Regions from separate parts of the Homo sapiens genome. Here all the other regions are linked to region 1. The links come from fine-mapping of genetic effects on gene expression. A gene starts in region 1. Each other region holds a variant in brackets. All regions are shown on one strand. Distances are between the middles of the regions.

Region 1 (10,434 bases):
CCAGCCTGGGCAACATGACAAAACCCTGTTTCTGGAGAAAAAAAAAAAAAAGATGCGTGTCTGTAGTCTCAGCCACACGGGAGGCTGTGGGAGCTTGAACCCGGGAGGCAGAGGTTGCAATGAGCTGAGATCATGCCACTGCCCTACAGCCTGGGCGACAGAGCAAGATCATATCTCACAAAAGAAAGAAAAAAGAAAAATGCCCAACATACCAGTGTTTCCCAAACTTTACTCCTTCAGATACTATTTTCATGAGTTTACCATATCCTATGTTTACAATACACTCAGCTGTACTTAATATTTTATGAAAACGTCCTCTTTTTTTTTAAACTTTGTTAAATGTACTACTAGTAACAGGTACTAATAAATGTATTAATGGTAATTAAGGTAATATTTCACTACCTTGAATAGAAGAAAACCATAAAAAATAAATCTAATAAAATCAAGTTTGCTAAATTTTAAAACCTAAAATTTAACAATAATTATAAATGATAATGTATCTTATGATGTCCTTCACAGGCTGGTCCCTACCTGCCTCTCTAGTCTCCCCTCCCCTGCCCTGCCCCTGCCCCATGCTTCCATCTCTCCATTTCAAGCATATTGGTTTTTGGCCCTTCAAAACCAGCCATACTTCTACCTACCACAGTGCTTTTACATAGGTTATTCCTTTGGTATATATCAGTAAGAGGACATACCCATGAGTGCTAGGGAACCTGAAGAATTTAACAAATACAGTGCTATCAGCTAAAAACAAGAAGAATTATGCTTTCCTGAAAACATTCTAGAATTACACAGGTATTACTCATGATTTTGTCATTGATCTGGATATCCAGGTTCTTGTCCTGGCACCAAAGTTGAATCCCAAGATCTTAGATGATATATTTAATAAACGTGTGACTCAGTTTCTCCATCTATAAAAACAATTAGCTATCAAGAACACGATAGATACACTAAATCAACTACCTAAACTGTTGAATGCAATTCATGGTTGTATTTGTTATGTGAGAGCAGAAAATTACAATACTTTCTTTCAGACACCTACCTTTACCAAATCCAACCTCTTATGTGCCCAACCAGATATCTTAGTCATGCTACAGTTATTTAAAGCTCTCATTTGTTAAAAAAAAAAAAAAATTATCTAGCATTCATATTTACAAATAAATGAGATAAATGGGGAACAAGTATAGCCACTTTAGATGCTATTTAACATCCGTTCTGTTTTCTTTCTATAATAGTGACCTCTACTTTCCTTGGGGACCTTACTTCCTCCCCTACTCCCAGACATGTGGGAAGAGATAGCCCCACCCGGCTTCATTCCCAGAGCCACAGTGACAATCATAAGGTTTAATCAGAACTAAGGAGATACAGCTGGGGACTTCTGCTTACAGTTATGCTCTTTCTACTGGACTTGAATCTAGGGGGATGTACTTGATAGCTTCAATCATCCATTCTCCTCATTTATCTACCTTATTGTATGCCCTGAAGAAAACTGGTCTGCACAATATAAGTTCCCTCTAGCTTCTGGTTGAATTTAGACAATGAAGAGTATGAGCAAGAGCACAGCCTTTGGGTCATCTTGCAGGGTCTGAGAGTAAGGCCGACGTGAAGGGAAATAGAGCCATGGTTGGCAGAGGGACTGGGTCCTGGCCCCATTGGCTGACTGGCTGATTCTGGTCATGCCAAGACTATTATATACACTGATTCTTTAGTTGCATGAGCCAGGACATTTCCTTTTTTTTTTTCCTCAAAACATTTTGAGTTTGGGGCTTCAAACACGTGAAACAGAGTCTTAATGAAGGTATAACTAAAAATATAGCTCTGAAGTGAAGATGCATGGATCCCTGATCCTGAGGACTCTAAATCTGACCTAAATACAGTTCCAGTCTCCCTAAGGCCCCATCCTACAGCAGATCCTGTTTTGAGATTTCTCTGAGATTCTGTCTCTCTTATACATGATTTATAGCCTTACAATATTACAATATTCACCATCTTTACTCGCCATGAGTCAGTTTGTTCCTTGGAGCAAAGCGAATGTAATGAAACAGTTCCCATCTTACAGATAGGGAAATGGAGGCCAAGATATATGAAGAGACTTCATCAAAGGCAAACCTGAACGTGGCAGGCAGGTCTCTGGCCAAGGATCTTTCCATGCCAGCTCCGTTTCTTTATGTCCCCTTTCCCTCCTTCCCTATGCTTTCCCCTTCCCCTTTGCCCTGAATTTTTGTGGTCCGGTTGCTCTAGGAGCCTAGGTCTTGTCACATTATCTCAGCACTTGGATGACATGGTTCCAGCTGTCAGAGAAGGAAAGGCATGGACTTGTTTTTCTCTGAGTTTCCTTCTATTTCTGTATGCTCATTTGGCCTTCAGCATGTGCCACCCTGTGAAAGTTTGGGGGATGTTTTATAATGTTGCTTAACTTTATTTAGCTTCCCAAGTATTTATGACTTGCCTTCAAGATGAGAGTGAATTTAGCTGGTGTCCCTGATTCACCTTGGAAAAATCTATTGTGCCTAGCACAGTATCTGGCTTGCATTAGATAATCAGTAAATATCCATTGACAAGATTGACTAAAAGAATCTTACATTAGGCAAAATGCTGGCTAAGCTGCTGTAACAAAATTACAGTGGCTCCAACATGACAGAAGTTGATTTTTCTCTCACTCCCCAGAGGTGTGCCGGCAGTCCAGGGTGGGCAGGCGGCTCTGTTCTATGAAGTCATCCAAGGGCTCCTTGCCCTGCTATCCTCTAGAGAGTGTCTTTCTCCTCATGGTCAGAGCTGGTTTACCAGTACATTCACATTCTGGCCTAAGCAAAGGGGGAAAGGGAAAGTGAAGGGAAAGGGAAAGTGAAAGGAAAGAAGGTAACTTCCTTATAAAGATGTGATTCAAATGTGCACATATTACCTCTGCTTGCTTCTCGTTGGCTAAATCACTGTCACGTGCTCGTGCTAGCTTGCAAGTGTGTTGTGGGAAGTCAGGGACCCCGAATGGAGGGACTGCCTGGAGCTCCGGCAGAGGAACATAAATTGTGAAGATTTCATGGACACTTATCGGTTCCCAAATAATACTTTTATAATTTCTTATGCCTGTCTTTACTTTAATCTCTTAATCCTGTTATCTTCGTAAGCTGAGGATATACGTCACCTCAGGACCACTATGATAACTGTATTAACTGTACAAATTGATTGTAAAACGTGTGTTTGAACAATATGAAATCAGTGCACCTTGAAAAAGAACAGAATAACAGCAATTTTTAGGGGACAAGGGAAGACAACCAAAAGGTCTGATTGCCTGCAGGGTCATTATATTATATATATATATATATATATATATATATATATATATATATATATACACACACACACACACATCTTATATATATATACACATTTTATATATATATATACACATTTTATATATATACACACATTATATATACACACACATTATATATATACACATTATATATACACATTATATATACACACATTATATATATACACATTTTATATATATATACACATTATATATATATATAAAACATTATATGTGTGTGTGTGTGTGTGTATATATATGTCCAAGAGTAATGAAAACATGTTACTGCAGAAAGACTGGTCCAATAATGTTCATAGGAGCCTTATTCATAATTAGCCAAAAGGTAGAAACAAACCAAATGTCCATCAACAGGAGAATATTTAAACATGTTGTGGGATATTCATACTGGAATACTGGAAGGCTACTCAGCAATAAAAAGGAATGAATTCCTGATACATGAAACAACCAGGGCTGATTTACTCATTTGGCACAGTAGGCACAGTTCTGGGGCCTGTGAAAATAAACTTTTAGGTGGAAGAAAATGTTTTAGGTGAAAGAAATTGTCATATTCATCTTTATAGCAACATAGTCATAAGACATAATTTTTGATTATATAAATAGTTTGTCATATTCATCTTTATAGCAACATAGTCATAAGACATAATTTTTGATTATATAGTGTGTGTACATAAAATGAAGGGGCTCATGAAGTGCTTAGGGCCCATAGAAATCATAATGCAGGCCTACAAACAAGAATAAATACTAAAATATGTGTTAAGCCAAAAACCTGGGACACAAAAGAGTACATGCTGTACTCTTAAATAGAATTCTACAACAGGCAAAACTAATCTATGTTGATAGTGACCAGAAAGTGATTACCTCTGGAGTGGGGAGAGATTGCAAGAAGGGAATGAAGGCACTTTCAGGGATGGCAGACATGCTCTATATCTTGTTTTTGGTGGTGGTTATTTAGGTGTATATACAATCTCCTAAAATCATGGAACAGAACCTTTAGGTTCTGTACATTTTATTGTATATTAATTATGCCACAATTTTAAACAAAGGGGAAGAATAGACAGGGTACAATGAATAATTTCTGTGACAGATTTGATAAATGAATTACTAGGACAGTGTTTGCTGACAAGGTTTAACATTGCATTCTTGTAGAAAACCTTTAGGAACTCAAAGGGAAGAGTCCAGGCACTGTGACAGGCCAGTGGGGAATGAACCACACTGCTCTATATTAATCAAGCTTTTTTATTGCAAACAACAGAATATATCTGGTAAGCTTATACAGCACAGGAATTTATCAGAAGAATAACAGGAAGTACTGTATTCACAACAGTCTCTGAAAACAGGCAGGAATTTAAGACAAGATCAGACCATCAGATGGCTGGTGGATCATATGATGCCATAATCCTATACCCTTGCCCCAACCAACCCACATATATCTCAGGCCTTCACTGCATCTTTTCATTACTCCTCCAAAACTGAAAACCTATGCGTGAGCCTCTGGCTTGCTGAGCCTAGGCAAAGCCTACATATAATAACTCCCATGGAGATGGAAGAGGCAATGTGTTTCATTGGCTTCTAGATGGGAGGTGGGGCCCCCAAATGACCAATGTTCCCAACAAAACCTGAACAATCTGAAATTATTCAGATTTCTGCTTGTCATTCTAACCTCTGTTCAGGACTTCCAAGATCCAGGACAGGCCCAGTGTAGATACCTGTGTCCCAAACCACTGATCTGGGCTAGGAAGACTGAATCACAGGTGTGGAAGGTCACCCGGGTTCAACCATCTAGGTGATGAATTAGGCCAGGACCTGGGCAGGTAGACCATTTATTCTGGGGAGATATGATGCGAGCTTGAATTACATGGGAGAAATATTTGTAAGGCAGATGGGATAACAGGACTTGATAAGTCTGTAGTGTGGAAAGGCTAGAAAAGAAAGGAATCAAAGGAATCCTGATTTCTGACTTGACAGGGTAGAAGGAGGTGTGTGTGTGTGTGCGTGTGTGTGTGTATGTTTATGTAGGGACAGTGACACCCAAGAGAGGCTAGGAATAGGTTTGTTTTATTCCTGTTTGGGGTGGTTGGGTAGGCAGGGTTAAGTTTTTGACTTGGTGAATTTGAGATGATGGCCAATATACAATTGACATTCCAGCTGGGGGGACCATTGAAGATCAAGTCTGGCAAGTCTACTAGCTGGCGCCTGGGTGAGCTGAGCCCAGCAGGTGAGGGAAAACGCGGGAAGAGGGTCTTGCAGATTCCAAACTTAGGAAGGGTCGCGGCTCCGCGCACGTGCTCTCGGGGTCACCTTCCCCGCGCCTGTGAGGGTGCCAGGAGTTCGTCTCCAGGTCCCGCCCCTGTGGGCGGGGCGAGGCAGCGTCGCCGCGAGGCCACCCGGAAGACCAAGCCGGGTAGGCGCTGTCTCCGTCGCCTCCAACCCCCCCGGTCCGACCAGGGAAGGTGGGATGCTCTGATGGCCGGGCCTGCGGCGCTGAGCGCGGCGGCGGCGGCTGCTCTGGCGGCCGCCCTGCTCCTGCTGCGTCGTGAGGACCCGGGGCCGGGGGCTGGCCCCAGGTAACCCCTCCGCGTATGGGACCGAGCTGGGCCAGGTCTCCTGGCCGGGCCGGGGATACCGTGGGGTATGCCCAGTGATGCCAGCAGCTTGTGGCACCTGGGCGCACCCTCCAGCTCGGGCCCCTTCCGATGGGTCTGCTGGCTCAGGTGCGGGCGATGGCCGGGGAGCCGCGCCCCGCACGTGACTCAGCACTTTCCCCAGAGCCCGGACTGCGGAGAACAATATCCTCCTCCCTAACAGATAAACAGCCCTTGTTCCTCGGGATAAGGACTGGCAGTCCCCTGACACCCTAAGACCGGCATCTGTCGATGTTATTTCCCCAGCATGGCCGAAACAGAAGCCCTGTCGAAGCTTCGGGAAGACTTCAGGATGCAGAATAAATCCGTCTTTATTTTGGGCGCCAGCGGAGAAACCGGCAGAGTGCTCTTAAAGGAAATCCTGGAGCAGGGCCTGTTTTCCAAAGTCACGCTCATTGGCCGGAGGAAGCTCACCTTCGACGAGGAAGCTTATAAAAATGTGGTGGGTATTTCAGCTGGGACTCAAATGGACCCCCAGGATTCTGCGAGGTGAACATATTTCATGCCTAAAGGCTGAATACTGCCCTGCCAGTGGTGGGGGTAGTGAGAGGCCATCAAAACTTGGCCAAGATTGGTCTGTGAGAGTCCCTCCCAGAAGTCTGACTCCTGGATTGTAGCCCAGGTGTGCCTCCCTCCCGCTCATTGTGTGGTCTTGGGCAAAGCCCTTCTCTCCATCTGCAACCCTATAAAGCTGGGTCTGGGTTGTAATGGGGGTGGGGGCTGGTGAGACAGAAGAGCACTGTTTTCAGGGTCATACAAGCTGTATTCTAGAGGCAGCCCTGGTGACCTTGAGAATTTTCTCAGCCACTTTGCTGATTTTGTCAACCTGCGCACTTCACACTAATATTGTCAGGGATTCTGAAACTGCTTTGCAGAGTGAGATAGGTCTATGGCAGTGAAAGGTGGGATTATTCACTTACAAGAATTTGCCCTGCCTGACTTCCCAGGCTTGTGTCTGTAAATCGGATATTCCCTTCACTCTAAGTTAAAGGTTTTTTTTTTTTTTTTTCTGAGACGGAGTCTCACTCTGTCCCCCAGGCTGGAGTGCAGTGGCACGATCTCGGCTCAGTGCAACCTCTGCCTTTCAGGTTCAAGCGATTCTTCTGCCTCAGCCTCCCGAGTAACTGGAACTACAGGCGTGCGTCACCACTCCTGGCTAACTTTTGTATTTTTAGTAGAGACGAGACAAGGTTTCACCATGTTGGCCAGGCTGGTCTCGAACTCTTGACCTCAGATGATGCTCCCGCTTCAGCCTCCCAAAGTGCTGCGATTACAGGCGTGAGCCACCGCGCCCAGCCTAAGTTACACTTTTATGATTATAGGAATGATATACCAGACTTCTGTCTTGTCATGACCCCCTAAATATCAGAAGCCTGAGTTTCTTGGAGATTCTGTTCTTTATTTAAAGGGAATTATCTGTGAACTGCAACAAATTAACATAGTGTGATCTCAAGACACCACAGCTACAGAATTTGGCCCCACAGGTTTCATAGAAAGAACATTTCAAATAACAAGCCATCTTGCAAATAAATGTTCTTGATTCTCGCAGGTCTGTGTTCAGGTCATGGTGTGAATGCCTTTGGTCCATCAAGTCTTGTTTATTTAAAACAGACATCTTTCCTCAGGCTGAGGCAGATGTGTTCTCACCGGTTTCATGGGCTGTGTCAGATATTCATGGTAATTAGAAGCTGAAACTGAAGGCTGGGCGTGGTGGCTCATGCCTGTAATCCCAGAGCTTTGGGAGTCCGAGGCAGGGGATCTCTTGAGGTCAAGAGTTCCAGACCAGCCTGGCCAACATGGTGAAACCCTGTCTCTACTAAAAATACAGAAATTAGCTGGGCGTGGTGGTGCACGCCTGTAATCTCAGCTACTCAGGAGGCGGAGGTGCGAGAATCACTTGAACCCAGGAGATGGAGGTTGCAGTGAGCAGAAATTGTGCCACTGCACTCCAGCCTGGGTGACAGAGCGAGACTCTGTCTCAAAAAAAAAAAAAAAAAAAGAAAAGAAACAAATTGAAATCTGTGTTTTGAGTGTCGAGTTTTGGTGGCACATCTGTTTGACTAGGTACTTTGTGAAACCCTATTTTTCTTTTTCTTTTCTTTTCTTTTCTTTTTTTTTTTTTTTTTTTTGAGATGGAGTCTCACTCTGTCGCCCAGTCTGGAGTGCAGTGGTGCGATCTCAGCTCACTGCAAGCTCCGCTTCCTGGGTTCACGCCATTCTCCTGCCTCAGCCTCCCGAGTAGCTGCAACTACAGGTGCCTACCACCACAACCGGCTAATTTTTTTTTTGCATTTTTAGTAGAGACGGGGTTTCACCATGTTAGCCAGGATGGTCTCGATCTCCTGACCTCGTGATCCACCCACCTCAGCCTCCCAAAGTGCTGGGATTAACAGTGAAACCCTATTTTTCTTTAGTGTCATAGGCAGTGCCAGAAAAATTCTTTTCAGAGTTGACAGTAAGGATGGAAACCAACATTTTATCGGAGTTCTTGGATGATAGGAATTTATCATGCTTTCTTTTTTAAGTTATACAGCAAACTGATAAGGTTAGATGGAGGTTCGTAAACTTCTGTGTGCATGAGAATTAAGGTGGGTGCTTGTTAAAAGTGCAGATTCTGATTCAGAACTATTGGTGTGGGATGTAGGAATATGCCTTTTTATTAAGCACTCCCTGACTAATTATAATGCAAATGGTTCATGGATTGGACTGAAGGAAAGATTATCACCCCCATTTTACAGCTGAAAAAAAAAAGCTGTAGTGTATGATGAATAATTTGCCCGTAACTACATGCCTAGTGAGTGTAGCAAGCCCAAGATTTGCAGCTAGGTCTTCTTTAAGATGCCAAACGCCATCTCTTGCCCTCACATCATACCTCAGTGGTCTCCTTCCTGGTTAGCTACACACAGGTCTTTTATTTTTCCAGAGAGAGATTATAATCGAACCTGACTTCAGAAATCTGGATCACCCCTAGTCCAGTTATATAGACTGTGGACATATGTGTGTGTTGTTGATTTTCAACTGAGGTTCATTGCTTTTTGGTTGGAGAAAAGGAATTTGTAAAATTTGATGTTAAGTGGACAGGCCTGTCAGTAATGTTCTGTAACTTAGTCTTTAAATCTAGAGGGGGTTTTTGGTCTGTTGTTTAAATAACATGAAACTACATACAACTGTGTCCTTGCCTAGAATCAAGAAGTGGTGGACTTTGAAAAGTTGGATGACTACGCCTCTGCCTTTCAAGGTCATGATGTTGGATTCTGTTGCCTGGGTACCACCAGAGGGAAAGCTGGGGCGGTAAGGAAGGCATATGCTCTTTTCCCTTTTTGCTGGCCAGTAATATCAAGGATTCTTTTCTTGCTCACTCTTTTTCTTTGTGCCTGTTGCAATGCTTAAATGTGAATAAGCCTTTATTGTTTAAGATTCTATATGCTGCACTAACCTTTGGTATCCTTTTAATAGTACTGATAAGTTCGTCTTTCAAAGTAATCCTTGAGTTCAGGCCCCAGTGCTGGAGACGTCGTAAATATTTACATGATTTTGCCTATTGTGATTATCGCTATCACTACATCCCCTGACTAAGGGAAACCATGATGTCTGAGTAAAACTAATTGGTTTATGCTGTTAACAATCAGCTGTTTTTCCCCTTAATAAATGTTTGAAATTTGAAATGTTCTGTCTCACTTGAGTGATTTGCTTCAACTTATTTTCATGTCAAGCTTTAAACTTCTGGAATAGAACATCAGAACACAGGCACGATTCAACCAGCCTCCAGCGATGACTCAGCCTTCAGCGATGATTCAACCCCACTAATGATTCAGTCTTTACTGACGCAAAAGTCTTTTAACGCACATTTTATTTTCTTTTTAATGGTGTTCTAAATTGAGTCAGCTCCTGTACAGAAGTCATAGTTTACTACATAGTTAGAAATCAGAGTTTACTACCTGGATTCTGGGCAAATGTTAGTGCGGGTACATCTTATTTAATTTATACTTTGACTATAGTTTATTCCTCTGGCAGAATTTACATGCTGGAGCTGAAAAAACCTGCATGTTCTGCATATGTATCCCAGAACTTAAAGTAAAATTTAAAAATATTTAATAATAAATACATAAATAAAACAGAAGAAAGTGAAAAAAGTAAATAAATAAATAAAGCCGAGGCACAGTGGTTCATGCCTGTAATCCCAGGAAAACAAGAAAAAAGAAAAAATATATATATATATGACTATGACTCTGCCATGGGAATTCTCCTTAGGTTTATAAGCCAGACCCCTTCACCTGAAACATTAAGGGAGCATATAGTGAAGAACTATTCATTTATACCAACCGAGTAGTTAGATTCAGATGTATTTCTTTGGGCCTCCTTGTGATGCAAAGAGTAATTCTATGTATGCTTTCAATCAAGATGTATTTCCATACCTTCTGCAGTTCTGCCTATCTGTCCTGGAACACAGCTGGGATT
Region 2 (10,434 bases), 21 kb before region 1:
GAACAACCAAATACAATTTATGGACCTTGTTTGGTTACGGATTCAAACAAAACTAGAAAACAATATTTTAGAGACAACTGGAATTATTGGATAATGAATTGGATATTTTAAAATAACAAGAAACTTTGTCAAGAGTGAGAATGGCCTATATTTATGTAAAATAGAAAAATCTCCATGCCTTTCAGGAATGCAAACTGAACTAGGTAGGGACAAAATAACATGCTGTCTGGGATCTGCTTTAAAATACTTCCAAAAAAAAGTTAGAGAAAAGAAGAAAGGCAAGATGAAGCACAGGTGGTGAACTCTTGCTGATTATTTTGTCTGGGTGATGGGCGTGAGAATTCAATATACAACTCTTGCTACTTGTGTGTATATTTCAATTTTTCCTAGTAAAAGCACTGAAAAAAACCACTTGCAAGTATTTTGTTGATGGCCTCATAAATAGATGCTATAGTTCTTATCTCAAGGCTTTGAATTTTAATGTAATGTTTAGGTCCAAGTGTTAGGATTTCAAGCAGTCGGTGTTGAAATATTTAGCGTTACACCGCCCTCTTGTGCTTTCCACGGAGTTTACGGCTTGATGCATATCCCCTCACTGCCTTCCTCCCACCCAATCTTTCCTCTTCCACTTCAACAGTTGAGTTTGCCCGCTAGTTTTAAATTTAAATGGAGGTTTTAGAAGGCTCTTAGCCGATAATAGTGTCTTTGTCCACACTGGAATCCTGACTGCTTCCTCCCCTGCACTCAAGATTTTCTCCCCTTCATTGCTCTCTCTTAACAGCAAATTGCATAAAAGTGGTAAAAGGGACCCAAAAGCAGCCAGTTGCCGAGAGTCCAAATGTTTGAAAGGGAAACTCCAACATTTATCAAGCTGAGAAGTTGAGTGTGTTCCGGCAATCTATTTTTTTAATTATTCAATTATGAATTCCCAGTTATAAATAATTAATGGATGCTAGTAAGATCTCCTGAGAGGAACATTTGATACATGGCCAAACTGATGAAAGACCCAAATCAAAAATGTCCTTAAAATGACTTAAACAGGTAAAATTTTTAAAAGTCTAAGAAATTCCTTAAGGCAAAAAATAATATCAAAAGATGGGAAAAGACTTCCCCATCAAAGTAAAACCAAATAACCAATTATTGTAAAACCAATAATTGGGAAAATCAAGTTTTCTTTATCAAACTGTTATTTTGACCAATCTGTTTTATGAGCCAACTAATTTCAACCAGATTTCTTTCTTCCAAATCATTTGGCTAAATTGCTTTCAATTTGCATTCAGTCAAATCCTGTGCTACCCACACAGTCAATAAATATAAGGGATTTAGGCATCAAAATGAGATTTTTAACCTCTTTTACCCAGAAATGGTATGAATCCAATTTATACTCTTAAATATCCTGTTTGGTTTTTCAGTCTTCTCATAGCCATAGAATTTGCTTCTCACAAAAAGCTGGGAGATAAACGGGTCTGAATTATTATTCCTGTATTATGCCCAAGGAAATGGAGGTACAATGACATAAAAGGCTCTGCCTAAGGCCACAAAGCTAGTAAGTGGCAAAGCTAGGATGAGACCTCAGATCTCTCAGGCTCCTCTGCTGGGGCCAGTTCCACCACAACAGTGCCAAGAATGTAGACCCTGCTTTGCTCTTAGCAAAGGAGCCTAGAACAGGGTTTGGGAACATTCACATTCAGTTTCAAGGCACTAACCAGATGCTCTCAGATCCTGCTGTGGAAGCTGAGAGAAACAAGTGAGTTTTAAGAGTGCAGTTGACGTATCTATCTGTTAACATGCGTGCATACCTGCCTGCATGTATGTATGTGTGACCAAGTGCATTCAGCCTCTACAATATGAAGATATGGAAGATACAAAAAGGATTCCGATCAATATTATCAAGCGTGTAACATTCTCAAGTATTCTCTTGCTCTCCAAGTTGTCCAATATAGTCAAGGAAAGCTGATCCACATTTGTTCATTCACTCATGCAACATATTATTTAATGCCTTGGTGATTAGGTACTGTTCTAGGTGTTAGGGATGCAACGGTGAACAAAACAATGTTCCTGCTTTCATAGAATGTTCATTCTAGTAAGACAGTTGGCAAGTAATATAGCACAATATGCAAATGAGAGATAAATTTTGGTGGCTTCGACTATGGTGACCCTGACCAATACCCAGAGAAAGGAGAAATCAATGAAACTTTGAATAGATAGAAATGTGCTACTCTTACCTAGAGCGACAACCAACCAAGGTCATATTTTTTAGAGCATGTATATTACATTAGGGAGTAGTTGTGTCATTTCTGGGAATACTAGTTTTATAAGAAAAGCCTGAAACTGGATTCAAATTCTGATTGTTCCGTTTACAAATTGTGTGCTCTCAGATGAGTTATTTCATGGTTTTTACAGTTTCCCCAAAATAGTAGTGCCTATCTCATTTCTACTTAATAGAGCTATTATGACAGTTAGAAGATAAAACAGATAAGACATGGAAAGCGCTTAGCACAGGGATAGACACAAAGTAAGAAATTAATAAATATAACTGCCACGTCAGTTTGGATTACTTCTGTTGCAAGAGATTGCAATGAGAAAAGAATTTACCGGCCTGCATAATCATAGCAAACAAGGCCTTAGGACCCAATTTCTCTCTCTGTTGGTTGACTGCGCTTTACTTCTGCTCTGCCCTCACTCCTTGATAGATCTTCCCAAGGTGGCATGATGGCTTACATGAGATAATGGAGTTCAGGATGCCTACCCCAAAGACACATTACCCCAAAATATAGGAGCTTGGCATATTGAATATTTTTAAGCTGAAGTAATTTGAGAAACAGTAGGAGGAACTCTCTGACTTTCCCTTGCCCTTCTATCCTGAAGCAGGTTATAGACCTTCAGGTGAGAGGTACCTTACTCTATACCCGGAGGAAAGGAATATCCATATTCCTAAAGATGAAGGGACACCAAAAGAAATATGAATGAACAGGTCTTGCTAAATTTCCCCCAGTTTGTTACTTTTGTCCTATCACATTTTCCCACAACTTTCCTAACTTTCCATGACTTTTCAAACCTAGCATAAAAACACTCAGGTTTGGTCGGGAGCAGTGGCTCACTTCTATAATCCAGCACTTTGGGAGGCCGAGGTGGGTGGATCACTTGAGGTCAGGAGTTCAAGACCAGCCCAGTCAACATGGCAAAACCCCATCTCTACTAAAAATACAAAAAAAAAAAAAAAAATTAGCCGCGCATGGTGGCAGGTGCGTGTAATCCCAGCTACTCCAGGAGGCTGAGGCAGGAGAATCACTTGAACGTGGGAGGTGGAGGTTGCAGTGAGCTGAGACTGCACCGCTGCACTCCAGCCTGAGTGACAGAGCGAGACTCCGTCTTAAAATGACAAATCAAAAAACGCTCAGGTTTAACCACTTCTGATCTTCATTTCCTTGTGAAGACTCCCTTGTCACATAAAATTTACATTAAATAAATTTGTATGCTTTTCTCTTCTTAATCTGCCTTTTGTTACAGAGGCCCCAGCTGAGAACTTAGAAGGATAAAAAGAAATTTTTCCTCCCCTACAGTTTCTGGTGACCACAAAGGGACGGCTGGACACCTCACTCATTTCAGATCCTGCTGATGGGATCCAGGGAAACTGACAAAAGCCAGAAAAAGGTAAGCATTCTCCCAAAGTCAGCTTTCTCAGATCTCTGTTTGTAGCACCCAGTTAAGAGACAAAGGTAAAAATTTCTCCTTGTCACTTTTTCTTTTCCATATTCATATTTGCAGAAGAAAAACTTGCAAACATTAGTTCTTTGGATTATGATTCTTGCACATTTGGCTAACTTGGTTTTGAGGTACATCTTGTTTACTGATTCTTTCCATGCCAGAGACAGCTACTGCTTTCCTAGTTATCTCATTTTGCATCCTGAGAGCTTGGCTTGGCTTTCTGCCTGCCAGGGAAATGTGCAGACAGTCAACCATCAGGTTGTTGGCCCTGAGAATATGGCCTGATGGAAATGTAGGTTGCATCTCATTCTCCGCTAATGTCTTACTGACTGTTGCCAGCCCTCAAGAAGGGCCATCTAAGTCTGTCTTTCTTGTGGCTATCTTTGGGAGTGGTCTGGATCTTGAAAGGCTGCCTTTTTTGCACTCTCTTTGAAGATGACTCTTGCGTCCACGGTTAAGCTATAAAAGTCTTGTTGGTTGTAAGTCATAAAAGGCTTATTGGCTTTTGTTTTGAGTCACTTGAAATAGATACCTTTAGTTTCAAAAAAATTATTTTAAAAAGAAGTTCAGTATTGCCAGAGATATTTACTGTTTGTCCCAGCTAAAACTTGATAATAAGATATTTGAAAGAATTTTTTTTTTAAAGATCTATGGTCAGAAATTGGCCTAATTGGAAGCTGATATTCAGGGCCTAATGGAACCAATTTTGTTTAAGTCTTCTCTGTTTTCTCTGTTTAATCCTGCTCCTCCCATGGGAACTTCTCACTTAACTGAAATCCCCTTCTCAAGCCCCTGCTGACTAGATGTCCACCTCCTTCTTGTTGGCACAATTTTGCTGAGGATAATTTGGAACTCCATTGGCTCCTTGGGGAAACTTAAGATCTCCCAAAACTGGCCCCTCTGAAGTTTCTGCCTTCCCTTTGCTTCTGCTCCTCCTTCATCCTTTTGCCACTTTCAATCTTCCATTCAGTTTCCTGAATCCTTTGATATGTCCCCCTTCAAGCTCCTACCTCCTCCATTCTTCTGTCCATCTCTGCCAGACCTTTTTCCACCCCAGCCCCTCAGTCACTTGAACCTTCAGCTCCTCTGCTCTCAAGAGACTCGAGGGCCCCCAAAAGCAAGTATCTGAGGCTGAAAAGGAAAAAGCCTAATTGGAAATAGTCTATTTTATCCACTCAGATGTGCTTTGAAAATATCCAGATAGAGCCCAGTGTGGTGACACATACCTGAAATCCCAGCTACTTGGGAGGCTGAGGTGGAAGGATGGCTTGAGGTCAGGAGTTCAAGACCAGCTTGGGCAACATAGTAGCTTCCGTCTCTTGAAACACACACACACTCACACACACACATGCACACAGATAACTGCTAGATGTCTTCTAGTCACTTGCCTAGAATGTAGTTCACAGCCTGCATAAGATTACATGTCAGGGCAAATGAGAATTTAAACATATTTTTCCACAAATATTGGTTAAAAAATTCCTGGGGGTGGGGCCAAGAAGGCCAAGTAGAAGCAGTGGCGATCGGAGGTTCCCATTTAAAAGAACCATAATAGCGTGCAAATCCTGCACCAGCAACCGAGGTTCTCTCATTAGAACTGACTAGGTGGCTAGCATGACCCACAGAGAGGAAGGAA[G/A]AGCAGTGTGTTGCAGCAGCTCACCTTAGAGCCACACGGGCCGGGGGAGCACCCATCCCCCAGCCAAGGGAGGTGGTGAGCGAGTGTGCTACCCAGCGGGGAAACCGTGCTTTTTCCACGGAACTGTGCAACCCACGGATCGGAAGATCCCACTCATGAACCCATGCCACCGGGGCCTAGGGTCCCAACCATGGAGCCATGCAGATTCTCAACAGCCAGTAAGCTAAAATCTGCTTAAGCCTGCTGAGTTCCTGCGGGGAGGGGCAACCATCACCACAGCTGCGGCTGCCTACTGTCTAAGCCCTTTGAGCTCCTTGGGGGAGGGGCGGCAGCCAGCACTGGGACTGATAACTGCCTAACACGCTAAGCTCCCTGGGCAGGAGTAGGACGCAAGCCATCTCTATAGCTCCAGGCTGCGCTTCACACCGCCCCCACCCCCCCGCCCGGCCCCCGCTGGAGCCAGGGAGGCAGGATGGCTTGCTCCCAAGAGGCGTGCCCCACAACCCAACACACCAGCTGAGGCAGACTATAGCCAGACCGCCTTTTCAGGCCTGACCCTGACCCATCCCTCCTCACTGGGCGGGGCCTTCCTGCAGGAACTCCAGCAACTCCAGCCAGGATCTCAGGGACAGAACTCTGATCTCCCTAGGCTTAAGCCCCTATGGGGAGGATTGGCCACAGTCTCTGCAGACCAGCAGACTTAACCTTTCCTTCTGCTAGTTCTGAGGAATCCAGGCAGCCCAGGCAAGTGGGTTTCCCCCCAGGGAAGCACACTCCCTCCACCAAGGGACAAAGTGCTTCATTAAAAGGGTCCTGTTCCCCATGCCACCCAACTGGGTGAGACACTCCAATAAGGGTTGTCAGACACCCTATACAGGAGTGATCCTACTGGCATCAGGTTGATGCCTCTCGAGGTCAGTGATCCCAGAGGAAGGAGCAGGCACCCATCTTTGCTGTTCTCCAGCCTCACTGAGTGACATCTCCAGGCATGGGAGCGAACCAGATGAATAGGACCTGAAGTGAACCCCTAGCAAACTGCAGCACCCCTACAGAAGAGGGAACTGACCATTGAAAACAAACAAACAGAAAGCAACAACAGCATCAACAACACAAAAAAAAGTGCCCATGAAAACTCCATCCAAGGGTCAGCAGCCTCAAATATCAAAACTAGACAAACTCATGAAGACGAGAAAGAGTCAACGAAAAAACAGTGAAAACCCAAAAGGCCAGAGTGCCTCTTCTTCTCCAAATTGTTGCAACACCTCTCCAGCAAGGGTGCAGAACTGGACAGAGGATGAGATGGGTGAATTGATAGAAGTAGGCTTCAGAAGGTGGGTAATAACAAACTTTGCTGAGCTAAAGGAGCATGTTCTAACCCAATGCGAAGAAGCTAAGAACCTTGATAAAAGGTTAGAGGAGCTTCTAACTAGAATAACCAGTTTAGAGAGGAACACAAATGACCTGATGGAGCTGAAAAACACAGCATGAGAACTTCATGAAGCATACACAAGTATCAATAGCCAAATCAACCCAGTGGAAGAAAGGATATCAAAGTTTGAAGAACACCTTGCTGAAATAAGGCATGCAGACAAGATTAGAGAAATGAAAAGGAATGAACAAAGCCTCCGAGAAATATGGGACTATGTAAAAGGGCCGAACCTATGATTGATTGGAGTACCTGAAGGAGACGGGAGAATGCAAACAAGCTGGAAAACACACTTCAGGATATTATCCAGGAGAACTTCCCCAATCTAGCAAGACAGGCCAATATTCAAATTCAGGAAATACCGAGAACACCACTCAGATACTCCATGAGAAGATCAATCCCAAGACACATAATCAGCAGATTCTCCAAAATCGAAATGAAGGAAAAAATGTTAAGGGCAGCCAGAGAGAAAGGCCAGGTCACCTACAAAGGGAAGCCCATCAGAGTAACAGCAGATGTCTCAACAGAAACCCTACAAGCCAGAAGAGGGTTGGGGCCAATATTCAACATTCTTAAAGATAAGAATTTTCAACCCAGAATTTCATAGCCAGCCAAACTAAGCTTCATAACAAAGGAGAAACAAAATCCTTTCCAGACAAGCAAATGCAGGGGGATTTCATTACCACCAGTCTGCCTTTCAGGAGCTCCTGAAGGAAGCACTAAATATGGAAAGGAAAAACCAGTACCAACCACTGCAAAACACACCAAAATATAAAGACCAATGACACTATGAAGAAGCTACATCAACTAGTGTGCAAAATAACCAGATAGCATCATGATGACGGGATCAAATTCACACATAACAATACTAACCTTAAATGTAAATGGGCTAAATGACCCAATCAAAAGACACAGACTGGCAAATTTGATAATGAGTCAAGACCCTTTGGTGTGCTATATTCAGAAGACCCATCTCACTTGCAAAGACACACATAGGCTCAAAATAAAGGGATAGAGGAAAATTTACCAAGCAAATCCTAGTCTCTGGCAAAACAGACTATAAAACAACAAAGATCAAAAAAGACAAAGAAAGGCATTACATAGTGGTAAAGGGATCAATTCAACAAGAAGAGCTAACTATCCTAAATATATACCCACCTAATACAGGAGCACCCAGATTCATAAAGCAAGTTCTTAGAGACCTACAAAGAGACTTAGACTCCCACACAATAATAGTGGGAGACTTTAACACCCCACTGTCAATATTAGATCAATGAGACAGAAAATTAACAAGGATATTCAGGACTTTAACTCAGCTCTGAAACAAATGGACCTAATAGACATCGACAGAACTCTCCACCCCAAATCAACAGAATATACATTCTTCTCAGTGCTACTGGCACTTATTCTAAAATTGACCACATAATTGGAAGTAAAACACTCTGCAGCAAAAGCAAAAGAACTGAAACCATAACAGTCTCTCAGACCACAGTGCAATCAAATTAGAATTTAGGATTAAGAAACTCACTCAAAACCACACAATTACATGGAAAATGAACAATATGACTCCTGAGTAAATAATGAAATTAAGGCAGAAATTAAGAAGTTCTTTGAAACCAATGAGAACAAAGAGACAACATACCAGAATCTCTGGGACACAGCTAAAGCAGTGTTAAGAGGGAAATTTATAACTCTAAATGCCCACATCAGAGAGCTAGAAAGATCTCAAATCAACACCTCAACATCACAATTAAAAGAACTGGAGAAACAAGGGCAAACAAATCCAAAACCTGACAGAAGACAGGAAATAGCTAAGATCAGAGCAGAACTGAAGAAGATAGAAATGAAAAACCCTCCAAAAAAACAATGAATCCAGGTTTTCATTGGTTTTTTGAAAAAAATAACAAATTGGATAGACTGCTAGCTAGACTAATAAAGAAGAAAAGAGAGAAGAATCAAATGGATACAATAAAAAATTATAAAGGGGATATCACCACTGATCCCACAGAAATAGAGACTACCATCAGAGATTGCTATAAACACCCCTATGCGAATAAACTAGAAAATCTACAAGAAATGGATAACTTCCTGGACACATACACCCTCCCAAGACTGAACCATGATGAAGTCGAATCCCTGAATAGACCAATAACAAGTTCTGAAATTGAGGCAGTAATTGATAGTTTACCAACCAAGAAAAGCCCAGAACCAGAAGGATTCACAGCCTAATTCTACCAGAGGTACAAGGAGGAGCTGGTACCATTCCTTCTGAAACTATTCCAAATAATTGAAAAGGAGAGACTCCGCCCCAACTCATTTTATGAAGCCAGCATCATCCTGATACCTAAACCTGGCAGAGATACACACACAAAAAAAAAAAGAAAAGAAAAGAAAACTTCAGGCCAATATCTCTGATAAACATTGATACAAAAATCCTCAATAAAATACTGGCAAACTGAATCCAGCAGCACATCAAAAACCTTATCCACCACTATCAAGTCAGCTTCATCTCTGGGATGCAAGGCTGATTCAACATACATAAATCAATAAACATAATCCATCACATAAACAAAACCAGTGACAAAAGCCACATGATTATCTCAATAGATGCAGAAAAGGCCTTTGATAAAATTCAACATCCCTTCATGTTAAAAACTCTCAATAAACTAGGTACTGATGGAACATATCTCAAAATAATAAGAGCTACTTATGAGAAAACCACAGCCAGTATCATATTGAATGGTCAAAAGCTGGAAGCATTCCCTTTGAAAACCAGTAGAAGACAAGGATGCCTTCCCTCACCACTCCTTTTCAACATAGTATTGGAAGTTCTGGCCAGGGAAGTCAGGCAAGAGAAAGAAATAAAGCGTATTCAAATAGGAAGAGAGGAAGTAAAATTGTCTCTGTTTGCAGATGACAGGATTCTATATTTAGAAAACCCCATCATCTCAGCCCCAAAACTCTTAAGCTGATAAGCAACTTCGGCAAAGTCTCAGTCTCAAAATCCATGTGCAAAAATTACAAGCATTCCTATTCACCAACAATAGACAAGCAGAGAACCAAATCATGAATGAACTCCCATTCACAATTGCTACAAAGAAAATAAAATACCTAGGAATACAGCTAACAAGGGATGAGAAGGACCTCTTCAAGGAGAACTACAAACCACTGCTTAAGGAAATAAGAGAGGACACAAATGGAAAAACATTCCATCCTTATGGAAAGGAAGAATCAATATTGTGAAAATGGCCATACTGCCCAAAGTAATTTATAGATTCAATGCTATTCCCATCAAACCACCATTGACATTCTTCACAGAATTAGAGAAAACTAAAGTTCATATGGAACCAAAGAAGAGCCCATATAGCCAAGACAATCCTAAGTAAAAAGAATGAAGCTGGAGGCATCATGCTACCTGACTTCAAACTATGCTACAAGTCTACAGTAACCAAAACAGCAGGTACTGGTACCAAAACAGACGTATAGACTAATGGAACAGAACAGAGACCTCAGAAACAACACCACACATCTACAACCATCTGATCTTCAACAAACCTGACGAAAACAAGCAACAGGGAAAGGATTTCCTGTTCAATAAATGGTCCTGGGAAAACTGGCTAGCCATATGCAGAAAACTGAAACCGGACCCCTTCCTTACACCTTATAC
Region 3 (10,434 bases), 85 kb before region 1:
GCTGTATGAAACTTGGAGGAGAGATGTTTCAGAGGAATGGATTCTTCAGGGTGAGTTAGAATTGGGGCAGGATTTCCTTGGAACAGCCCACTGTGTGTCTACCTGGGATATTTTGGAGAGTTGAATTGTAAGTATTAAGGAGGAATTAATGTCTCCTTCAAGAAGCCAGTTTAGAAAGATCTGAATGACCAATAGGTAAATGATAACTTCAGAATGTAAGGACTGGCTGTAGGGGGCTCCCAAGAATCTGGTAAGTCAGAAGAATAATATAAGAAAAATATAATAATTATATAGTCATAAAATCTGCTGGGAACTATGCTAAATATGTTACATACATTATCTATTTTAACCTTCCAAAAAAAGCCTTTGAGATAGGTTATTATTAGCTCTATTATATATGTGTGTGATATGTGTGTGTGTGTGTATGTGTGTGTGTATATATATATATATATTTTTTTTTTTTTTTGAGATGGAGTCTCACTCTGTCGCCCAGGCTGGGGTGCAGTGGCACCATCTCGCCTCACTGCAACCTCCACCTCCCAGGTTCAAGCAATTCTCCTGCCTCAGCCTCCTGAGTAGCTGGGATTACAGGCACCTGCCACCACACCCGGATAATTTTTTGTATTTTTAGTAGAGACAGTGTTTCACCATATTGGCCAGGCTGGTCTCGACTCCTGACCTTGTGATCTGCCTGCCTTGGCCTCTCAAAGTGCTGGGATTACAGGCAGCTCTATTATATTTTATAGATGAGAAAACTGTGCCTCAGAAAGGCAAGCGAGTGTGGGAGCCAGATTCCAGCTTGGCAGAGCCCTAAAGCCCATGCTTTTCTAGGACGTCCCGATAAGCATACCCTGGAGTCTTTTTGCCCTATAGGGAGGCCCTTCTGTTTTTAAAACCAAAAGAGACAGACTTGAACCACAAACAGAGGGTTTTTTTCTTCATAGAAAAAGATGCCTCCTGCAACCAAAATAAATAAACCCATAAGAAGAGCGGAAAGCAGACCAGAGCCTCTGGGAGTTGGCCCTCACCTGCAGAAGAAAGCACAGAGATTCTTCCTGGGGACTGATGGTCCGTTTTTTCTTTCTTGTTTTCGAAAGAGGCTTGGCTGTCAGGCTTTGATTCAGAACAGGAGTGCATTCAGAAGCATCCTCTGGTGAGGCTGGGAAGCTGTTCACATCCCCGGAAAATTCAGTGGGAGAAAAAGTTTATGGAAGCGAGTAGGAGTTTATTCAACAGTGTCTGAGGCCTTTCAGAGCCATGAGTGAGTGTCTATAAAGGGGCAGTCAAGCATAGGCTGGGAATTATCTCTGTTGGGTGCCTACCTGTGACAGGCCCTCAAGAGCTGCTAAGAGGCTCATTCAGGGCCCAAGGGACAATGGCCAGTGGGGACAAACAATTCGGAGGAGTCTATCATTCTGGTGGTGTTATCTTTAGCACTGAATAAAACCGGAGTTCCCCCTTTCTGCCTCCTAGTCAGCACTATTTTTAGGAGCCAGTGGTACTTTTCAACTCTCTTTCACTATTTTTCAACAGGTTCACAAGGGCACGAAGTGCAGTATATAAAAAGAGGATAATGACTTGACTTCAGTGCAGGAAAAGGCCCAATGAACAGAGCAGCCAAGCTTGCCGGGACTAGAATAGATGAAAGTTTGGAGAAGAGTCGAGAAGAAATGGCATTGTCTGCATGGAGAAACTCCCCATTTTACATACAGTACTTCTGAGATGCTAAAGTAGACTTTCTGAAGTTCAAAGTTTAAAGAAGAAAGACTCAACTTTGAACGGTTCTGAGTGAGAAGCTGGAATAATGGTAGGCAGCCTTCTGAACTATTCACAGTTGTCTAGTGTGTGCCTTCACTACATGGACACTGATGCATTAGCTTTCTCTACAGGGCTGGCTTCATGGGAGTGTAATCTGTGCAGTCACACAGGACCTCATCCCTAAAGAGGTCCTCCTGCACAAGGTCTAACACTCTGCATAGCCATCTTGAAATTCTTAATAATTTTTGAACAAGATATCCCACATTCTCAGTTTGCATCGGGCCCAGCAAATTATGCAGCCAGTCCTGGTTTAGAAAGACAAAGAGCTGTCACTTTATACAGTCCCAGACACCAGGTCTTTGCTGTGTCAGAATTGTATGAGGAGTTAAGAATATAATTTACATTGTATAAACCTTCAAACTGCACAGATACATCTGTTTTTGTTTATTTGTTTTGTTTGCATTTTCATTTCATGTCTTGTTCCTGTTACAGGGAGAGAAGGGCCACATTTTTTGTTTTTATTGTTTAATGCATGCTATTTTAAGATTTCTCAAGAAGACAGCAGTCCCTGTCCAAAACTGTGTCTGTGTTCTGTGGTTAATTCTATTCTCCACATTCTACATGGAATTCCTGATTCAGGATTCCCTTATGTGATTCCATGACCAGAGAGGCTCAGGAGGAAATGAATCCCTTATTGAAGTCAAGGGAGAACTGGATTCATCTTGGGGAGATTTTTTCCTTCATCTGCTGGGTAAGGAGAAAAACAAAAGAAAGGTCAGCTTTCCTGTTTCTCAGAGAACAGAGATCATAATGTCTGCTGTTTCGTAAACCCACTCACAGTCCCCATGTTAGTGACAACCAGAAGACGACATTCTTGAAAGTAGAACAGAAATTCAACTTAGCACTGTGGGGCAGTGTCTCCTCCACGAACTGGGATTGGAAATGTCTCATATTAAACCCAGAGTGGGACCAAGAACACACCGTAGATGATGGCTTGCTTTAAATAAAAATTATGTCTTAATGACACTTTACCTAACTGACTTTGGAAAGTAATTCCCTGTCCAAGGATTGAAGAGATACATCATGCCAAGCTGTATGATACGTAAACTTTCCATCCTTTTAAGTTTTCCTAATTCTAAGAAGAAATTATGATTAACAGTAATAATGACCACAAACATAGTAAACATACTAGGATAATGATCACAAATAGAGCTTGAAATCCTGATTCCTGCATTTCTAACTGTGACCATGGGCAATTTCCTAACTTCACTGGTCTGTAGTTCCTTCATCTCAAAAACAATGGAGGTACTAAGGCCCAAGGTTTTTGTGGCACTCAGGGTTGGCTAACGTATGCCTTAGATGGCCAAGCACTCTTCTACGTGAAAGCGGATAACGTTGTTAAAGGCAGCTCTCAGCTTTCCACACTGGTATTTGAACACAGAGCCCTTCCCACTTCTTACCCCTCCCTCCCATCTTCTCTTCCAGCTTTGGCCTCTCAGACTTGCTGTGGCTTGGGAGCATATCTGGGGCCCACAGCTGGAATGTCCGGGCTGCTTCCAAGAGCTGGACCCTCAGTCTCAGGCGGGTTCTGGAGGACCCACTCCCAACCCTAACACCCAGTCACCTTCGTGGGGTGATCGTCCCAATGGCCATCACTCCCTCACCACTGGAGTGTTACCTCACAGATGGAGGACCTAGCCTGTGGGAAAGAAGAGACCATGACTTATCGGAACATATGGTTTCTTAATTCAAGTTAAAATGTCTGAACCCTGTTGCATCTGGTGCCATTTTAGTTTGTTAAAAATGCCACACAAGACTGTGACTAAAGGGGAAGAAATGGAGAAAAATACAGTTATTACACACTCAAGAGCCGGGTTTTGCGGCTCATTACCCAGTGGCCTCCGTGACTAATTAGGTTTTGTCACTGTTGCCGGGTCATTATGCCTTAATTTTTTTGCATAGTTATTCAGCCGTCACTTGAGGAAAAATGAAGTAGAGAAATACCCTTCTCTGTCTCCCCTGCTCTGAATCATTCAGGCTAAAAAAACTCTCCAGGCAGAGAGTACCCGAAACTGATGAAATGATCATTTTGCCACAATGGGACAAAGAAGTGTTAGTGGATTAAAGAGGTGCTTCTTTATCTGATGGCAAAGACCTCATTGAGCTGCAGAGGGCACAATTCAGTGGGGGAGATCATTAACTTTGAAGTCAGTCATCCAAAGATAATGTTTGTCCCTTTGCTTCCTTTGTTGTCCAACTGGCCTTAGCAACCTCTATTTTTTTACTCATCCTTGAAAAACTGGGGAAAAATGCATAATAAAATAAGGCCCTTGGGTCTCCTACAGGCCGGAGGCCTAGGTTAATTTTTGCTAGCTGCAAAGGAAATTGAAGACACCATAGTATTAGCACAGTGGGGCTTGTGTTGGGTCCGGGATAGTAAAAGGACCCATGGTGAGAGGGGAGACATTGGTGTCAATCATGGGGTGGGACACCACAATGGCCGGTAATTGGCGTGGGTCCACCTTCTACGTCCGTCCTGCTGAGCCTGCAGCCCCCAGCCCACTCTTGAGCCCCATCGCTAACAAGTAAACAATTTATCAGGGTTAGGTCTCCTGCGGGTTGCCCCATCACACGCTCCATTCGGCCCTAGCACCCCCACAACCCCCGTGCCAGCCCCACCACACACACAAAAATTGACGTACACCGTGCAATTTGGGGCAGACGCACCATGTAACAACACATTTACAACGGGCCTACCATGAAAATGGCTGTGTCAATATAGCTGCAAACTGGGGTAGCAGAGCAGCTGTGTCGGCCCAGAACTGGTGGGCCCCAGAGGGTGTCAGGAGGAGAGGGTCACAGGCATTGGATCATATCAGAGCTGATTATGACCCCTGCATCTTTGACACAAGAACTCACACAAATGTTCACTAGAATCAATCAAATGTCTTATAAGTAGCCTAGCCGTTTTAATGTCATTCTCTGGATTTGTTTATTCTGAACTTTGTTATTGAATGAGTTGTGGCTCTTCAGGAACCAGAGTGTTCCTAAATAAGGGGCTTGCTGGAGACCCTGCTCTGGAGAGTGAAAATCCTGTGGTGAGGATTTTGACAGAATTGTCCATTTTCTAGAAAATAGGGCACTAGACTTTTGGCTCTGGAAGATCTGTTGGAGACACCAGCTGTGACTCTTTCACAAGCTGCGTGATCTTGCTGAAGTTCCTCAGTTCCTCACTTGATAGACACGTTTTGCAGATCGAATGAACTTGTTGGAATTATATATAAAGAGGAAAGTAACTTATTAAATATCTCTTATGTGCCATGCTTTATTTCATTTAATCCTACAACAACAACAAGGAAGGGAATGTTGTCGTCTATCTTTTATAGATCAGGAAAATAAGGCTTCAAAAAGGAAAAGGAATCGGAGATACCTGAAATGGAAGTTAGAACCAAGTCTGTCTACTGACTTGTTTGCTCTGTTGTCCCAAAGTTGGTTCTGTTTCCATGCAATTTTGCCAGGAACAAAATACTCTTAGATAATTTTAAATACACAGTCTCATATTCAGATTGATAAGACATAATTCGGTCTTTTGGAAGACATTTCTTTAAAGGGTTGGAATGGGAAGGAAAATTTCTATGAGATGCGCAGAGCTTTATAACTATGAGGCTTTTTTATTAATTTCTCGGTTTCTAACATTCTGTTATTGCCTTTCACTGTAAGATTTTTATCCAAGACACCCTCCATTATTAGACATGCCTTTATTTTATGTGCTACTGATTTCAGAGTGCTATTAATTTTAGGATTATCCCTACTTGAGAGGTGTTACGATGTAGAAAGTTGTATATTTTAGAATCCAATATGTGTACCTGGATCTCAGCATCATAGGGCTGCTGTATTTTTCCGTGTTCTTGGAAAAAGCAA[T/C]GGCTTTGTTTGCTGTTTAACAGTTGAAAGTGTGGCTGATGCTGGTTTCCCGTGCGGATGGGGTCTGTGTGTGGGGTGGCTTGCTGAGCTCAGAGTGCAGGAAGGAAGACTCCCCCCAGCCAGGAGTCTCAGCACCATTGTCCTCCCTTGAAGCTGAGACAAAGGAGCAATTTTATGCTAATCAGTGTACATGAAATAAGCTTTTTAAATTTTTTTCTTTTTACAAATTCTACTTCTTTCACTTGGAGACATGATACATGAGGGGAGTCTATACAGCCACATTCCTCAGCTGAGGCACACAGCCAGCGGGGCTGACATCAGGAAAGTACGCAGCAGTGGAGAACTGGACAGAGCCTGTCAGACCTGCCCATCTCTTCAACATGAAGCCCTGCACATTTGTGGGCAGTGTTGGCGTGGGCTGTGTTTGAGGACGTGAAACTAATGTATTTCGGGGAGAGAAAAACTTTCTCTCTACCCTCTGAAGGTTTGAGAATTGAGTCTGTGAAATAAACTGAAAGTAGACAGATTAACAGGAAAAAAAAAATCATTTTAATTACATGCATAACCATGGGAGTCCCACAAAATATGAGACTCAAAGAAGGGTCAGATGATTGAAGTTTCTGTAGCATCCTGAGTTACAGAAAGAAATAGAGGCTTTGAGTTTGTGGGTTCGGGGAGTGGCAGACAGCACAAGTTATGGGAAAGTGAGGGGAGGAATTGTACAGTGAATAAAGGTTGTCTTGTCATGCAGCTGAAGTCTCTCTCAGGTAATATATCTCCCAGCAGCCCTTTTCCTGATACAGATACTCCAATAATGTAGATTTCTGTTCTAGATGTAAATTTCCTTTACAGAAGGACAGCTTTTTAGAGCTACTCCTGTGTGTGCAGTTTCTTAGAATGACCAGCTGAAAATGTATGAAAAAATTTCTAAATCAAACTACATTTGGGCTTTAGAAGCCTCTGTACAAGTCCGTGTAACTAACTGCAACCTAACTTAGCAAATAAACCAACAGAAAACCTAACTTAGGAATTTGCCTTTGTAACAACAACTGAGTCTCAGCCAATTATAGCAGCCGAATTTCAGCCTGTGGCAGGTGGCCAACTGTTCAAACTAGATTCAGTTAAGGCAAATGCAGGGATTTAACCAACTGACTGTCTCTATACCTCATTTTTGCTTTCTGTATGTCATTTCATTTCCTCTGACTGTAAATATAACCTGCACATGTGGTGGGATGAAGCATTCTGAACCATTTTTCTATTTGTTTTAGAGATGGGGGTCTTGCCATGTTGCCCAGGCTGGAATGCAGTTGCTATTCACAGCCACAATCATAGCGCACTGCACCCTTGAACTCCTGGGCTCAAGTGATCCTCCCACCTCAGTCTCCTGAGTAGCTGGGACTACAGGTCCACACCACCATACCTGGCTTCTGAACCATTTTTGATGTAAAATATTGCCCAATTCTAGAATTGCAGATAGAAGCCAATTAACATCTGCAAAACTAGTGTGAAAAGAAAAACTTTAAACAAATTAAATTTAACAGAGTTTAATTGAGCAAAGAATTCTTGAATGAGCAGCCCCCCCAAACCAGAATAGGTTCAGAGCAACTCTGGTGTGGCTGTGTGGTTGGAGAAGATTTATGTATGGGAAAAGGAAAGTGACATAAAGAAAACAGAAGTGAGGTATAGAAATAGCCAGATTGGTTGCAGCTCAATCTTTGCCTTATTTAAACATGGTTTAAACAGTTGGCTGCAGTTCTGCTGCAGAGTGAGTGGCAAGGTTGATCTTTCTCTGAGGTCGTTTCCAGAAGACCCAATCTCTGCGTTCTAGATCATGATGGTCCTCAGTTGGTGGATCATGGAAAAGCTTTCTTTACCTTGTGACAATACACTTTGGCATAATGCATTAAAGCTTGCAGCATTTAGTCGTATGGGAGTTTAGGAGCAGGAGATACATGAGGTTCTATTATTAGGGGCATAAGCCTACCAGTGACTATTTATAGAAGATTAACTTTTAGTTTGCACTGGAAGTAGATCTGATTGTCATCAGTCTGCAATACCTTTGACCAAGGCAATCCTGTCGATTCAATTAGCTTTACCTAATGCCATTGTATCTATAATATCATATTTAACTGTTCTGTAATTCGTCCAGTGAAACAAGTACTTTTATTGTTAGAGATTTTTCCAGGAGTGTCCTATGAGGGAATCACACTTTCTAATAATCTTTTAGCTATTGTTATAGCATCAGCCTTCTTCCATGGGAAAGCTTCTATATTGATATTTAAAAGGATATAAATCCTCTTAAATTGATATTTAAATATCCTCTTAAATATCAATTTTGTTTCTCCAATTCAGGTGCTTAACTGTTTATTAAATGGGTTATCATAGGTAATTTAACTTGGATATGGAATTCACTCAAATTGTCTATCTTAACAATTTCAGTACTGGCTGATTTAGCATGAAAGTCTGGCAAAGTATTTCCTTGGTATATAACTAATTCTTGTTCTGCTTGGGTTAGCAGTTTTATAAACCAGCCAGTCTCTTTATTAGAATTCCAGGAATTCTTACCCAGTCCAAACGATATTATCCTAAAGTTATCAAAAATTTCTATTCAGCAGTGCTTCTCAGGGTCCTTTCCATACTTTCCATGAACTTCCTTGAAGACACAACACTCTAGGATTTTACTTGCTTGCAAAGAACTTCCAGGAAATGCATCAGAATTCAGCAATTAACTGTGGAAAGGACTTAGAATGGTCATGGTTAAAGACACAGTTGACAAGAAAATTTGGTTATTTCTGTGGCCTATAATAATTTAACATAATAACCATAGTTATGATGGGTAACATATAAAGACCTACTAGAATTTTAGGAATCTCATGCAATTTTGAAAGATATATTAATAACATATTCATAAAAATGTAACTTGAAGAAGGTTAACCATTATTTGTTATTTGACAAGGTTTCCCATATAATTTAACATATCTAATAAGCCTATTTATTATCTCTTTTAGATGCTGCAGGGGCCCTCCATAACATCCCAAAGTTAGTTTGAGGTGAAAAGCCTTAATTCTGATTTTGAAATTTGATTTTTGGAAGCCTGTCAAATATATCAAAAGTTTAAAACACTTAATCAAAACAGAGGCCAGGTGTGGTGGCTCATGCCTGTAATCCCAGCACTTTGGGAGGCCGAAGCAGGTGGATCACTTGAGGTCAGGAGTTGGAGACCAGCCTGACCAACATTGTGAAACCTTGTCTCTACTAAAAATACAAAAGTTAGCTGGACATGGTGGTGCACACCTATAGTCCCAGCTACTCAGGAGGCTGAGGCAGGAGAATTACTTGAGCCCAGGATGTGGAGATTGTAGTGAGCTGAGATTGCACCACTGTACTCGAGCCTGGGTGATGGGAGTGAAACCCTGCCTCAAAAAAAAAAAAAAAAAAAAAAAAAGAATCACAAGTCACTGTAAAATAAAAGTCATTCACTTAGCCAAACAGATAATCAACTATTTTTTTTTAAAAAGCAAAAACCTTTATTCTTTGATAAAGAGGAGACTATTTTCCAAAAAAATCAAAAGACCTAATAAAAACGGTATGAGATAGAATCTGTCTCCCTCTCCCCACCTTTTTTTGTAGTTTATGCAAATTTGAATGAAAGTATTTTACTGTCTCTTCTTAATACTACATAAAGTTTTTTAAAAGTAAAAACCAAATTTTACTTTTGTATTAATGTATTATTAATATTAAGCTAATTTTAATAAATTTATAAATATATCATCCAATCTCAGTCAGCTTTTAACCACATAAGATCTTCATAAACCTTTTATAATTTCTTACAAGATTTTTCTTTTTTCTTTTTTAAGCTTTTTATATTTTAGTTTTATTTATATATTTTTTATTTTTGAAATTAAAAATTACCTTTAAATAACTTTTAAACTAGACAAAATTATTTTTTTAACAAACACACATTTTTATTCCTTTACAACTTTCCTCACCAAAAACATATTTTGCTTTTTATATACTTTGTGTACAGAATTTTAAAGTATCTAGTAGTTTGAATTACATATATTAACTACAATTTTAACTCTAGTAACCCAAATTTCTAGTGAAAACCTAGGATTTAAGTTTTAATTGTTTTATATTATTATTTATAGATAAAAACCATATTACATATTTTTAAAAAGATATACTTTCTCAATTTTTTTATTAACAGATCTAAATATATTTAGCTTTTGTATACCACATAAAAATAAAATGCCAAAGTATATAAACTTAAACGTATGTTTAATAATTAATGTTTCAGCTGGGCACAGTGGCTCACGCCTGTAATCCCACACTTTGGGAGGCAGAGGCGGGTGGATCATTTGAGGTGAGGAGTTTGAGACCAGCCTGATCAACATGGTGAAACCCCGTCTCTACTAAATACAAAAAAAGTTAGCCAGGCGTGGTGGTGCATGCCTGTAATCTCAGCTACTCTGAAAGCTGAGGCAGGAGAATCACTTGAACCTGGGAGACAAAGGTTGTAGAGAGCCAGGATTGAGCCACTACACTCCAGCTTGGGCAACAGAGTGAAACTCTGTCTCAAAAAGTAATATAATAATAATAATTAATGTTTCAGTATTTTAACTTAGAAATGACTCAAACACTATATTATTTTTACTTAATTTATTAAATTATTAACATGACTGTAAGATTTTAAATTACTGAAGAGTTTTGAAACTGTGACATAGATAAACTCCCTAATGTCTTTCCCAGTTTTCC

Evidence for each region.
Region 2: its variant is fine-mapped to the expression of HTATIP2 in esophagus muscle (GTEx, PIP 0.96).
Region 3: its variant is fine-mapped to the expression of HTATIP2 in whole blood (TOPMed, PIP above 0.99).

Annotation. Positions count from the first base shown.
Region 1 is chr11:20,358,015-20,368,448 of GRCh38, forward strand. HTATIP2 (HIV-1 Tat interactive protein 2) reads left to right here and starts at 5,700. Exons shown (of 5, transcript NM_001098522.2): 1 at 5,700-6,418; 2 at 9,160-9,267. The coding sequence starts at 6,224. RefSeq lists enhancers at 2,719-2,938, 9,233-10,432, 9,681-9,825, silencers at 5,701-6,120, 5,907-6,049 and a cis regulatory region at 9,748-9,758.
Region 2 is chr11:20,337,190-20,347,623 of GRCh38, forward strand. No RefSeq gene overlaps it. Among named protein-coding and RNA genes, the nearest start is that of HTATIP2, 21 kb to the right of the region's middle. RefSeq lists an enhancer at 5,438-5,965. The variant G/A (reference allele first, on the strand shown) is at 5,342.
Region 3 is chr11:20,272,852-20,283,285 of GRCh38, forward strand. No RefSeq gene overlaps it. Among named protein-coding and RNA genes, the nearest start is that of HTATIP2, 86 kb to the right of the region's middle. RefSeq lists an enhancer at 5,697-5,866. The variant T/C (reference allele first, on the strand shown) is at 5,680.